Linked DNA regions of Homo sapiens. The protein of the gene in region 1 binds, or shares a complex with, the protein of each later gene. Each region holds a gene or a part of one and is shown in the gene's direction. Other genes may lie near its edges.

Region 1 (3,753 bases):
TCGAACTCCTTATCTCAGGTGATCCACCCACCTCCGCCTCCCAAAGTGCGGGATTACAGGAATGAGCCACTACACCCGGCCTAATCACGATATTTTAAGGTTATATAATATGTATAAAATGCTTACATAGAACTGAGACATAATACTTAATAAATGGTAGCAATTACACATGAGGAAATAAGTTTGGAAAGGTAAATAAGTAAAGCATTCAGTTAATTAGTGACAACTAGTAAACCCAAGACTTGTTGCTCCTAATGCAGGAATGTTTAAAGCTCTGAATTTTTGCTGGAAGGGTAACTGAAAGAGGTAATCGGTGTAACTCAGTTATGTTTAACATGCAGATCAGTCATTTGGGAGAAAAAGGGTAAATTTTTGGAAGCATTTGCTAGGCTTACTAATGGAAAGACTGAAATTCAGGTATGGAAATCTAAAACTAAATGAGTTCCTTCAAGAAACCTTCAAGGCTCAAACGTCGGCATCGGATCTGGTCAAAATGTTTTGTATAGTAATAGTACATCCAAATGCTCTGCCATAGTGGCATGTCTATTACCTGATTTGGTTTCAGGTACAGTTAACTTTGTGTTGCCTTTATATACAGAAATATATTGTAAAGTACACTTAGTAATTAATTTTCGTACCTAGAATTTATAGGTACTTTTGTACCCGAGATTTAGTTACTATAATATATACAGACTAATACAGACATTAATAAAAAGACAATTCTGTAGACATTTTAAAACAGCCAGCTAGCTTATTTTAGCAGAAATACTCTATGAGCAATCAGGTGACATATATCATCTCTATTTTCCAGGCCGCGGGACCCTGTCAGATGAGCATGCTGGAGTGATATCTGTTCTAGCCCAGCAAGCAGCTAAGCTAACCTCTGACCCCACTGATATTCCTGTGGTGTGTCTAGAATCAGATAATGGGTGAGTAGATTTCAGCAGATCCTTTCCTTTTTGTTCAGAAAAATTCCTGGTAAAATTGGCGGGGGCCGGCCCTGTGTTCATCAGTGATTCCTTATTCAGACTACTTTGGGAAAAGTTCTTAATCTTTTGAATCACAGGAACAGACAAGTTGATCCCTAAAGCTAATGTGCTCTCAGGCCACAATGCTATTTAAATGAAGAATAAGAATTGGCAGAAGCTATCAGTTTACCAACAAAAAGAAAGTAACAAATAGCACAAAGGAAAACTAATCAGAGAATAAAAATTACTTTTTTTTTTTTTCTTTTTGAGGCAGGGTGTTGCTCTGGCACCAGGCTGGAGTACAGTGGTGTGATCATGGGTCACTGTGACTTCAACCCCACCGGGCTCAAGCGATTCACCCAACTCAGCCTCCCGAGTTGTAGCTGAGACTACAGGTGTACACTACCACACCCAGCTAATTTTTGTATTTTTTTGTAGAGATGAGGTTTCACCATGTTTCCCAGGCTGGTCTCGAACTCCTGGGCTCCAGTAATTTGCCCGCCTCAGCCTCCCAAAGTGCTGGGATTACAGGAATGAGTCACTGCACCCAGCCAAAAATTACTTCTAAAGCAATAAAATTACTAAAGATATTCCAAGTGATGGTCCTCAGAATAATATGTGAAAAAAAGTATATATATACAACTGCTACTATCACAGCCTTGTAAAAAGAAAAAACATACAGTCATGCATTGCTTAACAATGGGGATATGTTCTGAGAAATGTGTCAGGCAGTTTTGTTGTATGAACATCATAGAGTGTACTTAAACCTAGGTGGTACACCCTATTACACACCTAGGCTGTATTGCTCTTAGACTACAAAGATTTGTAGCCTAAATAATGTAGGCAGTTATAACAGTGGTATTTATGTATCTAAACGTAGAGAAGATACAGTAAAAGTATGGTATAGGGAAATTTTTTAAAAGGTATATCTGAATAGGGCACTTACCATAATGGAGCTTACAACACTGGAAGTTGCTCTGAGTGAGTCAATAAAACTTTTTGACTTTATAATAACACTTAAAACAGTTGTACAGCTGTACAAAAATTCTTTTTTTAAACTTTTTTACTTTTTAGACTTTTTTGTTAAAAGCAAAGAAGAAACACACATTAGCCTAGGCCTGCACAGGGTCAGGATCATCAATATCACTGGCTTCTATCTCCACATCTTCTCCCACTGGAAGGTCATCCAGGGCAGTAACATGCATGGAGTTGTCATCTCCTGTAATGATGATACCTTCTGGAATACCTCCTAAAGGACCTGTCTGAGGCTGTTTTATAGTTAACCTTGTCTTAATAAGTAGGAGTAGTATACTCTAAAATAATGATAAAAAGTAGGCCCGGCATGGTGGCTCACACTTGTAATCCCAGCACTTTGGGAGGCCAAGGCGGGCAGATCACTTGAGGTAAGGAGTGTGAGACAGCCTAACCAACATGGTGAAACCCTGTCTCTACTAAAAATACAAAAATTAGGCATGGTGGCAGGCACCTGTAATCCTAGCTACTCAGGAGGCTGAGGCAGGAGAATTGCTTGAACCCGGGAGGCAGAGGTTGCAGTGAGCTGAGATCACGCCACTGCCCTCCAGCCTGGGCAACAGAGCAAGACTCCGTCTCAAAAAAAAGAAAAAAAGTATAGTAAATACATAAACCATAGCATAGTCATTTATTATTATCAAGCGTTACGTACTGTACATAATTGTATGTGCTATACTTTTTATGACTGGCAGCACAATTTGTTTACACCAGCATTACCACAAACATGTGAGTAGTGTGTTGTGCTATGTGATGCTGGGACGGTTAAAAGGTCACTAGGCAATAGGAATTTTTCAGTTCCATTATAATCTTACGGGACCACCATCATATGTAGGGTCCACTGTTGACTGAAGCATTGTTATGCAGCACATGACTGTATCATATACATGCAAAGAAAACAAAGACCAGTAAAGCCTTTTTTTTGTAGTTCCAGCTACTGAGGTGGCTGAAGCAGGATTGCTTGAGCCCAGGAGTTTGAGGCCAGCTTGGGCAACATAGCAAGACAGTGCCTAAAAAACCGAAACAAAGAACCAGGGAAATATTAACAGTGGTTGTCTGTGTGTAGTAGGATTAAGGATTCATTTCGTGTTCACATGCTATATGTTTATGTATTTCCCAAATGTTTTGTTATGTTTAAATATTGCTTTTATACGTAGAAACAATTACATTATTTTAAATATTGTATCCTAAAGCAAACAACATCTTTAATCTTGCAGTGAAGTCCCACTGATTACGTTTTACTGAATATTTTCTTCCTGCATTTCAGGAACATTATGATCCAGAAACACGATGGCATCACGGTGGCAGTGCACAAAATGGCCTCTTGATGCTCATATCTGTTCTTCAGCAGCCTGTCATAGGAACTGGATCCTACCTATGTTAATTACCTTATAGAACTACTAAAGTTCCAGTAGTTAGGCCATTCATTTAATGTGCATTAGGCACTTTTCTGTTTATTTAAGAGTCAATTGCTTTCTAATGCTCTATGGACCGACTATCAAGATATTAGTAAGAAAGGATCATGTTTTGAAGCAGCAGGTCCAGGTCACTTTGTATATAGAATTTTGCTGTATTCAATAAATCTGTTTGGAGGAAAATGGATCTTTTCTAGATTCTTTAAACTTAACCAAATGTTCCTTTTGTTCAGTTATCAAACTGTAATTTTTTTAAAAGGTCTTTGTTCTAAATTACTTTTGTTTAAGAAGCTTCCTGAAATACCTACATTCTCACAGGTATGTCCATGGATCCCACCCCT
Region 2 (3,753 bases), on another chromosome or scaffold:
TGAGAAATACTGCATTTATCCATTTAATTATCAACTATTTATTAAGTCCTTACAATGTAATTGATATTCTGTTGGGCTTTAGAGATAAAAAGATGAAGATATGGTTTCACCTTAAAAACTTTCCAGGCCAAATGGTATTAATGTCTCTAAGAGATCATCACTAATTCTGTTTTATGGAAATATTCACTGAAATATAAAGTTCCTTTCTGTTTCATAATATAATACCATAATGTTGGGCTAAAACATTGATGATTTTAAAGTTTTTGAAAGATTAAGACATTTCAGTTTAGTTATACTACCTTTTCATAATGCAACATATTATTTGGCTCTTATTTTCTTTTTAGGTGGTTCAATTTAATCGTTTACCTTTGGTGGTGAGTTTCATAGCCAGCAGCAGTGCCAATACAGGTGTGTTTAATGACCTTAAATATCACTTTAATCCTTAATTTTAAAAAATTAATTTAATTACCATACCTTAATTTAAGAGGAATAGTAGATTTAGAGCCAAAAATCTTGAACTTGTGGCCCAGTTTCACTGTCTTTTTTCCATGTCTTGGGAAAAGTGATTTCTCTGAATCCTGGTTTCCATATCTGTATAATGGAGATAATATATGCTTTCTCCATCTTACAATGTTATTTTCTAGTTCAAATGAGACAGTGTATGGGTAAGTGATTTTTTTTTTTTTTTTTTGGAGACAGGAAAATTAAATGTTATCTGAGTGCTACATCTTGCTCCCATTACAGCAGTTTAAGAAAACAAGGTGAAGATAACCCAACAAAACGCATTAAAATGATCGATGAGTTACAGACCAATCTATTAAATTAGAATTTTTTAAATTTTACCTAATGGGGAAAATGAATGTGATTGAGAATTTAAAGAGCATGAATAGGATGAACATAGTCTCACTCTTCTTGAGAACTGAAGAATTTGAGAACAAATGCTAGGAAGCTGTACCCTTTATAGAGAATAGTAAAATTCCATTGTATCCAATACCTTCACTGGATATTTATGTGTAAAATAATGACTATTCACTTGGTTGTAATTTTTTTACTTCATTTTATATAAAGTAGGATTTTTATTAAAAGGTCTGTCTCCTTTAGATTTGATTGCTGTTGAGAATTGTAATATATTTTTTTCTATTTGTTTTTTCTTCCAAACTGAGCAAGTTCTTCTAGCTATGTCACTGAAGCCTGTTCTTAGATACCTCATCTTTAGAATGAGAGGTTTAGATTTGATGATCTATTAGATCTCTTCCATTTCAAAACATTTTAGGAATCTGTAAAATACTGTATGTAAAAACACTTTCTGAATTATATAGGATAGTAATGGTGTTAAGATTTTAAGTATATTTAGGAAATATACTAAATCTGAGTTTTGATAAATCACCTATCATCACATACTAAGTCACCAGTTGTTATATACTATGATAATGTACAGAACAATATTTTAGTACTTGGACCCTTTCCTTGAGAGTTCAGATGCTTTTTATATTCTATAAGACAGAGAAAGATCTTTATTTGTTTGAACATAAAACAGGCTCTGTTTGAGGCAGATAGCCTTTCACTCTAGTAAACTAAGGAGAAGCAAGATATGCTTATTTCTAGATGTTTATCTCCCAGGTTCATCATTGAACTCCAGTGTGTTTTGTACTCTACCATTTATTTTTAAAATATTTTTTCATTTGAAATATTTATTTATGTCTTAGCTTTGTCAAATTTATAAAAATAAATTTCTGATTTTCTTTGTTCAATATAGAAGCACCTATCTTTTGATATAATCTGTTAAAATTTGCTTAGAGACAAAAGTATGCTTTATTTAGTAAAAATCATATGTATTATTTCTGAGTCAAGGCAAATTTTGAAGCAGTAAGGTATAAATTAAGATTTTCCTTTCAAAACTCTTAACAAATTATAGTGCATATAATTTATTCTGTATTTCCTAATATATAAGTATTTTTCACTCATTCACTTTAGTAATAGATGCTGAAAATAAACTTATTAATGACTACAAAGTTTTTGGTTGCTTTATTTAGGGTTATAGTACAGGTTGAACATCCCTAATCCAAAAATTTGAAATCCAAAACATTCTAAAGTCTGAAACTTTCTGAGCACTAATATGGCATTCAAAGAAAATGCTCACTGGAGCATTTCATATTTGAGATTTTTGGGTTAGGGATGCTCAAATAGTAAGTATTGTACAAATATTCCAGAATTCAAAACACTTCTGATACCCAGCATTTTGGATAAGGGATATTCAACCTGTATTTTGTTTCAGTCATGGGAAATAAACTATGTTCTGATTTACTTTTGGTAACTATGTATTTTGGACATAAGGAAATCTGAGTTTCAGGCTTTGAGGAACATTTTTCTAACATGTAATTTTCTTAATCTCTTTATTTTAGGACTAATTGTCAGCCTAGAAAAGGAACTTGCTCCATTGTTTGAAGAACTGAGACAAGTTGTGGAAGTTTCTTAATCTGACAGTGGTTTCAGTGTGTACCTTATCTTCATTATAACAACACAATATCAATCCAGCAATCTTTAGACTACAATAATACTTTTATCCATGTGCTCAAGAAAGGGCCCCTTTTTCCAACTTATACTAAAGAGCTAGCATATAGATGTAATTTATAGATAGATCAGTTGCTATATTTTCTGGTGTAGGGTCTTTCTTATTTAGTGAGATCTAGGGATACCACAGAAATGGTTCAGTCTATCACAGCTCCCATGGAGTTAGTCTGGTCACCAGATATGGATGAGAGATTCTATTCAGTGGATCAGAATCAAACTGGTACATTGATCCACTTGAGCCGTTAAGTGCTGCCAATTGTACAATATGCCCAGGCTTGCAGAATAAAGCCAACTTTTTATTGTGAATAATAATAAGGACATATTTTTCTTCAGATTATGTTTTATTTCTTTGCATTGAGTGAGGAACATAAAATGGCTTGGTAAAAGTAATAAAATCAGTACAATCACTAACTTTCCTTTGTACATATTATTTTGCAGTATAGATGAATATTACTAATCAGTTTGATTATTCTCAGAGGGTGCTGCTCTTTAATGAAAATGAAAATTATAGCTAATGTTTTTTCCTCAAACTCTGCTTTCTGTAACCAATCAGTGTTTTAATGTTTGTGTGTTCTTCATAAAATTTAAATACAATTCGTTATTCTGTTTCCAATGTTAGTATGTATGTAAACATGATAGTACAGCCATTTTTTTCATATGTGAGTAAAAATAAAATAGTATTTTTAAAAATATAGTTTGAGCACTGTATAGGTCCTTTTTTTGTTCAGACTTTTTCCAAAAATCTAAACATAATTAATATACTCTTTCAGCCACATGAATAAATAATGAGTGTTTCTTGTAGGTATTGGTTTGGAGATTGTTTTACGGTAGTATGAACTGTTAACTGGAAAAGAAACCTGAGATTGCAGTCAGCCAAGATTGTGCCACTGCACCCCAGCCTGGGCAACAGAGACTCCGTCTCAAAAACAAAAAAGAAAAGAAACCAAGAAACCTCAGGCATGAACCTAATTTAATCTCCATGAAAGAGGTACTACAGTTCTAGAATATACCCTTTATGTTCAGGAATGCAGTCTATCATTCAGAGTTAATTTCTTTCTAGGCTCTTTGACAATCAGTTTTTCCCTGGATCAGTTCAGTACATATGCATTGAGCACCTGTGTGCCAGTCAGCCGAGCTATCACATTGCACAATTCTAAGAAGCACCATTCATGTCTCATCATA
Region 3 (3,659 bases), on another chromosome or scaffold:
TAGATAGAACAGGGGACTGAAAGAGGACAAGGAGGAAGACCAAACCAATGAGGAAGCTTGGTTTGGTCTTACATTAGTTCAGGGGTTGTGATTATCAGCACAGGCCAGCAGGAACAGGGCTGCTGAAAATTTACATGGGCTACTCAGGTGGTTTAGCAAGGGAGGGAACAGCGCCATTGTTGTTTGTTTTGAGATGGGGTCTTGCTCTCTTGCCCAGACTGGAGTACAGTGGCACAGTCCTAGCTCACTGCAGCCTCAAACCCTGGGTTCATACAGTCGTTGCACTTCAGCCTCCCAAGTAGGTGGGACTGCAGGGCTCACACTACCAAGTCCAGCTAATTTTTTTTTTTTGCAAAGACGAGGTCTTGCTTTGTTGCCCAGGCTGGTCTCAAACTCCTGGACTCAAGCAATCCTTCTGCCTTGGGCTCCCAAAGTGTTGGGATTACTGGTGTGAATCACCATACATGGCTACAGCTGTACTGCTCAGATCAGGATACACCATGTACACTCAGTTTGGTTCTGGGAGTCACGTACAAAAAGAGCACCAGAGCACAGGAGGGTGAACACCTTCGAAGGGACCTGCCTTCAAGAAGGGAACACACTTGTACTGTGTGACCCAGAGCTGGGCTGGGATTCCTGCCCTGACATAATTTGAGAAATGGCCATGGAGAGGTTGGGCTTGCTTTCTCTTGGGGCCTAGGGCTTTGTCTGGACTCGCCAGGGCTTCCATCTTGGAAGCGAACAGCTTTGCTGGGGAAGGCCTGGTCCTAGGGGATGAGGAAGGCTGTTCTTGGGCTCTTGACTTGCACTGATTTCCCCTTTAGATCCCAGTGCTTGCTATGTCTCAGCTCCACTGTCTTCCAGCCTCTAGTATCCTTTCTTTGCCAGGTCCTAGAATGTTTTTCAAGCTCCAGGGCTGTTGCTGACTACCTGCTTTGTGCCTCTGTCCATTTTTTCAGGGCCTCTAGGACTGCCTGGTTCCACTCTCATTTATCCTAGAACACCAACTCAGTTGAGCTCCCAAGGATAGGCAGGAACTGAGTCTTATCTGGCATTCCATAAAGCTGGGCACTTTAGATATTCCTTATAGAAACATTTTTGGTGTTTAAGGTCAGAGCTGGGCTAAGGGTAGCACCCGTGAAAGGCAGGATCTACGGGTCCTGGGGCTGACTTCTCTCCCATGACCACTTCTAGGACCGAGAGGAGCGGAAGCTGCTGCTGGACCCTAGCAGCCCCCCTACCAAAGCTCTCAATGGAGCCGAGCCCAACTACCACAGCCTGCCTTCCGCTCGCACTGATGAGCAGGCCCTGCTCTCTTCCATCCTTGCCAAGACAGCCAGGTAAGTGTCAGAGGACCAGGCCTGGGTCAGAGCTCCTCTATCCATATTAAAGGCTAGGATAGAAGGAGCCAGGCTCAGGACATGGGGGATGGGACAAGGTCACTGGGGAGAGGTGCCTCCATGTCCAGCCCTGCTCCAGTAGGCAGGAGGGAAACTGGTGTCAGATAGCCCTGGAGTTGGTACCTGGCACTGAGTCCTGTTTGTCCTTCTCGGAAGCACCTGTCATGTCATCTCTGTCTCCTCTCCCCATAGCAACATCATTGATGTGTCTGCTGCAGACTCACAGGGCATGGAGCAGCATGAGTACATGGACCGTGCCAGGCAGTACAGGTGAGCACCTGGCCAGCGTGGGTCCCTCAGGCTACTTGGGCTCCCACCCTCCATCACTGTTCCAGCTTTGGAGCCTGGCCCCTAGTCCAAGCTTCTCATTTGGTGCAGCCCTGGAGACTGACCACAGATCACTTGGGTGCTTCAGTAGTTATTCATGTCAGCCCTGTTTACCCTGTGACACTCTTGAGGGCGCTGAGGCCAAGGGAGATGGGCCTAGATTGAGTCTGTGATGAGCTGAGACCTTCCCTCCCAGATACCCCTCCTCGACACCCTGCTTCTCTGGCCTGAGGGGATGAGGCTTACCTGGGCTGGGCAGGGCAGACTGTGGCTTAACTGCCTACCCCCACCCCCTCTCTCTTGGTCAGCACCCGCTTGGCTGTGCTGAGCAGCAGCCTGACCCATTGGAAGAAGCTGCCACCGCTGCCGTCTCTTACCAGCCAGCCCCACCAAGTGCTGGCCAGTGAGCCCATCCCGTTCTCTGATTTGCAGCAGGTGAGACACCCCTCACCTGCCCCTGCCCACCCTTCTCACACTGCCCAGGGTATGGCAGAGGGTTCACCCACTCTGCCTCAGAGGAGGTAGGGAAGGTGGAGTTAGGGAGCCTGGTAGCCTTGTAGGCCCCAGCTCCCTCCCACCTCGTTCTCTTAACTTTTTATGTCTTTCCTATCTCCTTCCTGCAACCTTTATTGTTTCACTCCCCTTTGTTCTTTTCCTTCTGTCTCTCCCATCCCTGTCTTTCTCTTTGCCTTCCTGTTCCCCTTCATTCCCTCCTTCTCCATCACCATCTAATCTCCCCTCCCCATTTTTCCTGATTGCCCTCCTCACCTGTCTCTGTTCCTCTCCTCCCCGGCCCCTCTCTGTCTCAGGTCTCCAGGATAGCTGCTTATGCCTACAGTGCACTTTCTCAGATCCGTGTGGACGCAAAAGAGGAGCTGGTTGTACAGTTTGGGATCCCATGAAGAGAGGGGTCCTTGGACAGCTCTTCTCCTCTCTTCATCCCATCTCTACCCCACCCCCTTGGCCCCCAGCCTCACTGCGGCTTATACAGTACCCTAACCTGCTACTAATCACAGAGAAAAATGTGAAGAAGGAGGAGAAGAGGAAGGCTAGAAGCCTGAGCAAGTGAGGGTAGAACCTTTTGGGACTGGCCTTTGAAGCTCTGGCCAGGGATGGGGTGGGGGCCAAAAGGACAGAGCCTGGTATGTCTTCATAGTCATTGAGAATGTGGAGATACCAGTTTGGGTGGGGGGTGATCACCAGGGGACCTAGGGAGATCCCCTTCCCACCCTCTCTGTTGGCCTCAGAGTCACTCCTGCCCCCTCTCCCTGACTTGGTGCTCACATGCACCTCACTAGGGTTTGTGACCAGGGTCTGGATGAGCTTGAATTTGAATGAATTGAGTTTGTATTTCTAGAACCCTGGGTTTTTACATGTTTGGTCTTTTTTTGTTTTGGTTTGTCACCCTCGATAAAGGAAGTATATTCATCCATGTGCTGGTTCTGGCCCCTCTGTTCTACCCATTCTACTTTTGATTACTTAGGTCTATGAGAGTAAGATGGGGGGAAGGGGACATCTTCCAGGGATATTGAAGATGAACCCAAGAGACAAGGGTTTAGGGTGTCAGCTCTTAGCTGAGACCTGGCTTGGGCTAACCTCAGACTGGATGAGACTGTTCTTGTCCCTTGTCCAGTGATGATGGGAACACTGTCAAAGCTGAACAGACCTGAATCTGAGGCAGCTTTGATTCTTGGGGGCCCTGCCTCAGACTCAATGGAATTACCAACAGCCCCTGGGGGTGAAGGGAGACATGGCGGGTTGGGGGGTGGAGAGAGAAAGCAGACCAGGCTCTTCTGGGAATACCTAATATGGAGTCAGCAAGCAAATGTTTTTAAGCAGAAGATTCTTTTTATCAAATGAAATCTTAAGCAGAATCCCAGCATATAAAACAGAATGGAATTACTTTGATCTGATTGAAGTGGGGGCTGGTTT

What was found.
Region 2: LAMTOR5 (region 1) and LAMTOR3 share a complex: the UniProt entries of both Homo sapiens proteins name them as parts of the ragulator complex.
Region 3: LAMTOR5 (region 1) and LAMTOR1 share a complex: the UniProt entries of both Homo sapiens proteins name them as parts of the ragulator complex.

Annotation. Positions count from the first base shown.
Region 1 is NC_000001.11:110,401,095-110,404,847, reverse strand, and holds the end of LAMTOR5 (ragulator complex protein LAMTOR5), read left to right. Parts: intron 1-811; coding exon 812-929; intron 930-3,264; coding exon 3,265-3,325; 3' UTR 3,326-3,595; downstream 3,596-3,753. UniProt on the Homo sapiens protein: As part of the Ragulator complex it is involved in amino acid sensing and activation of mTORC1, a signaling complex promoting cell growth in response to growth factors, energy levels, and amino acids.
Region 2 is NC_000004.12:99,880,717-99,884,469, reverse strand, and holds part of LAMTOR3 (ragulator complex protein LAMTOR3), read left to right. Parts: intron 1-344; coding exon 345-408; intron 409-2,402; coding exon 2,403-2,476; 3' UTR 2,477-3,753. UniProt on the Homo sapiens protein: As part of the Ragulator complex it is involved in amino acid sensing and activation of mTORC1, a signaling complex promoting cell growth in response to growth factors, energy levels, and amino acids.
Region 3 is NC_000011.10:72,096,792-72,100,450, reverse strand, and holds the end of LAMTOR1 (ragulator complex protein LAMTOR1), read left to right. Parts: intron 1-1,194; coding exon 1,195-1,340; intron 1,341-1,592; coding exon 1,593-1,670; intron 1,671-2,035; coding exon 2,036-2,162; intron 2,163-2,536; coding exon 2,537-2,629; 3' UTR 2,630-3,159; downstream 3,160-3,659. UniProt on the Homo sapiens protein: Key component of the Ragulator complex, a multiprotein complex involved in amino acid sensing and activation of mTORC1, a signaling complex promoting cell growth in response to growth factors, energy levels, and amino acids.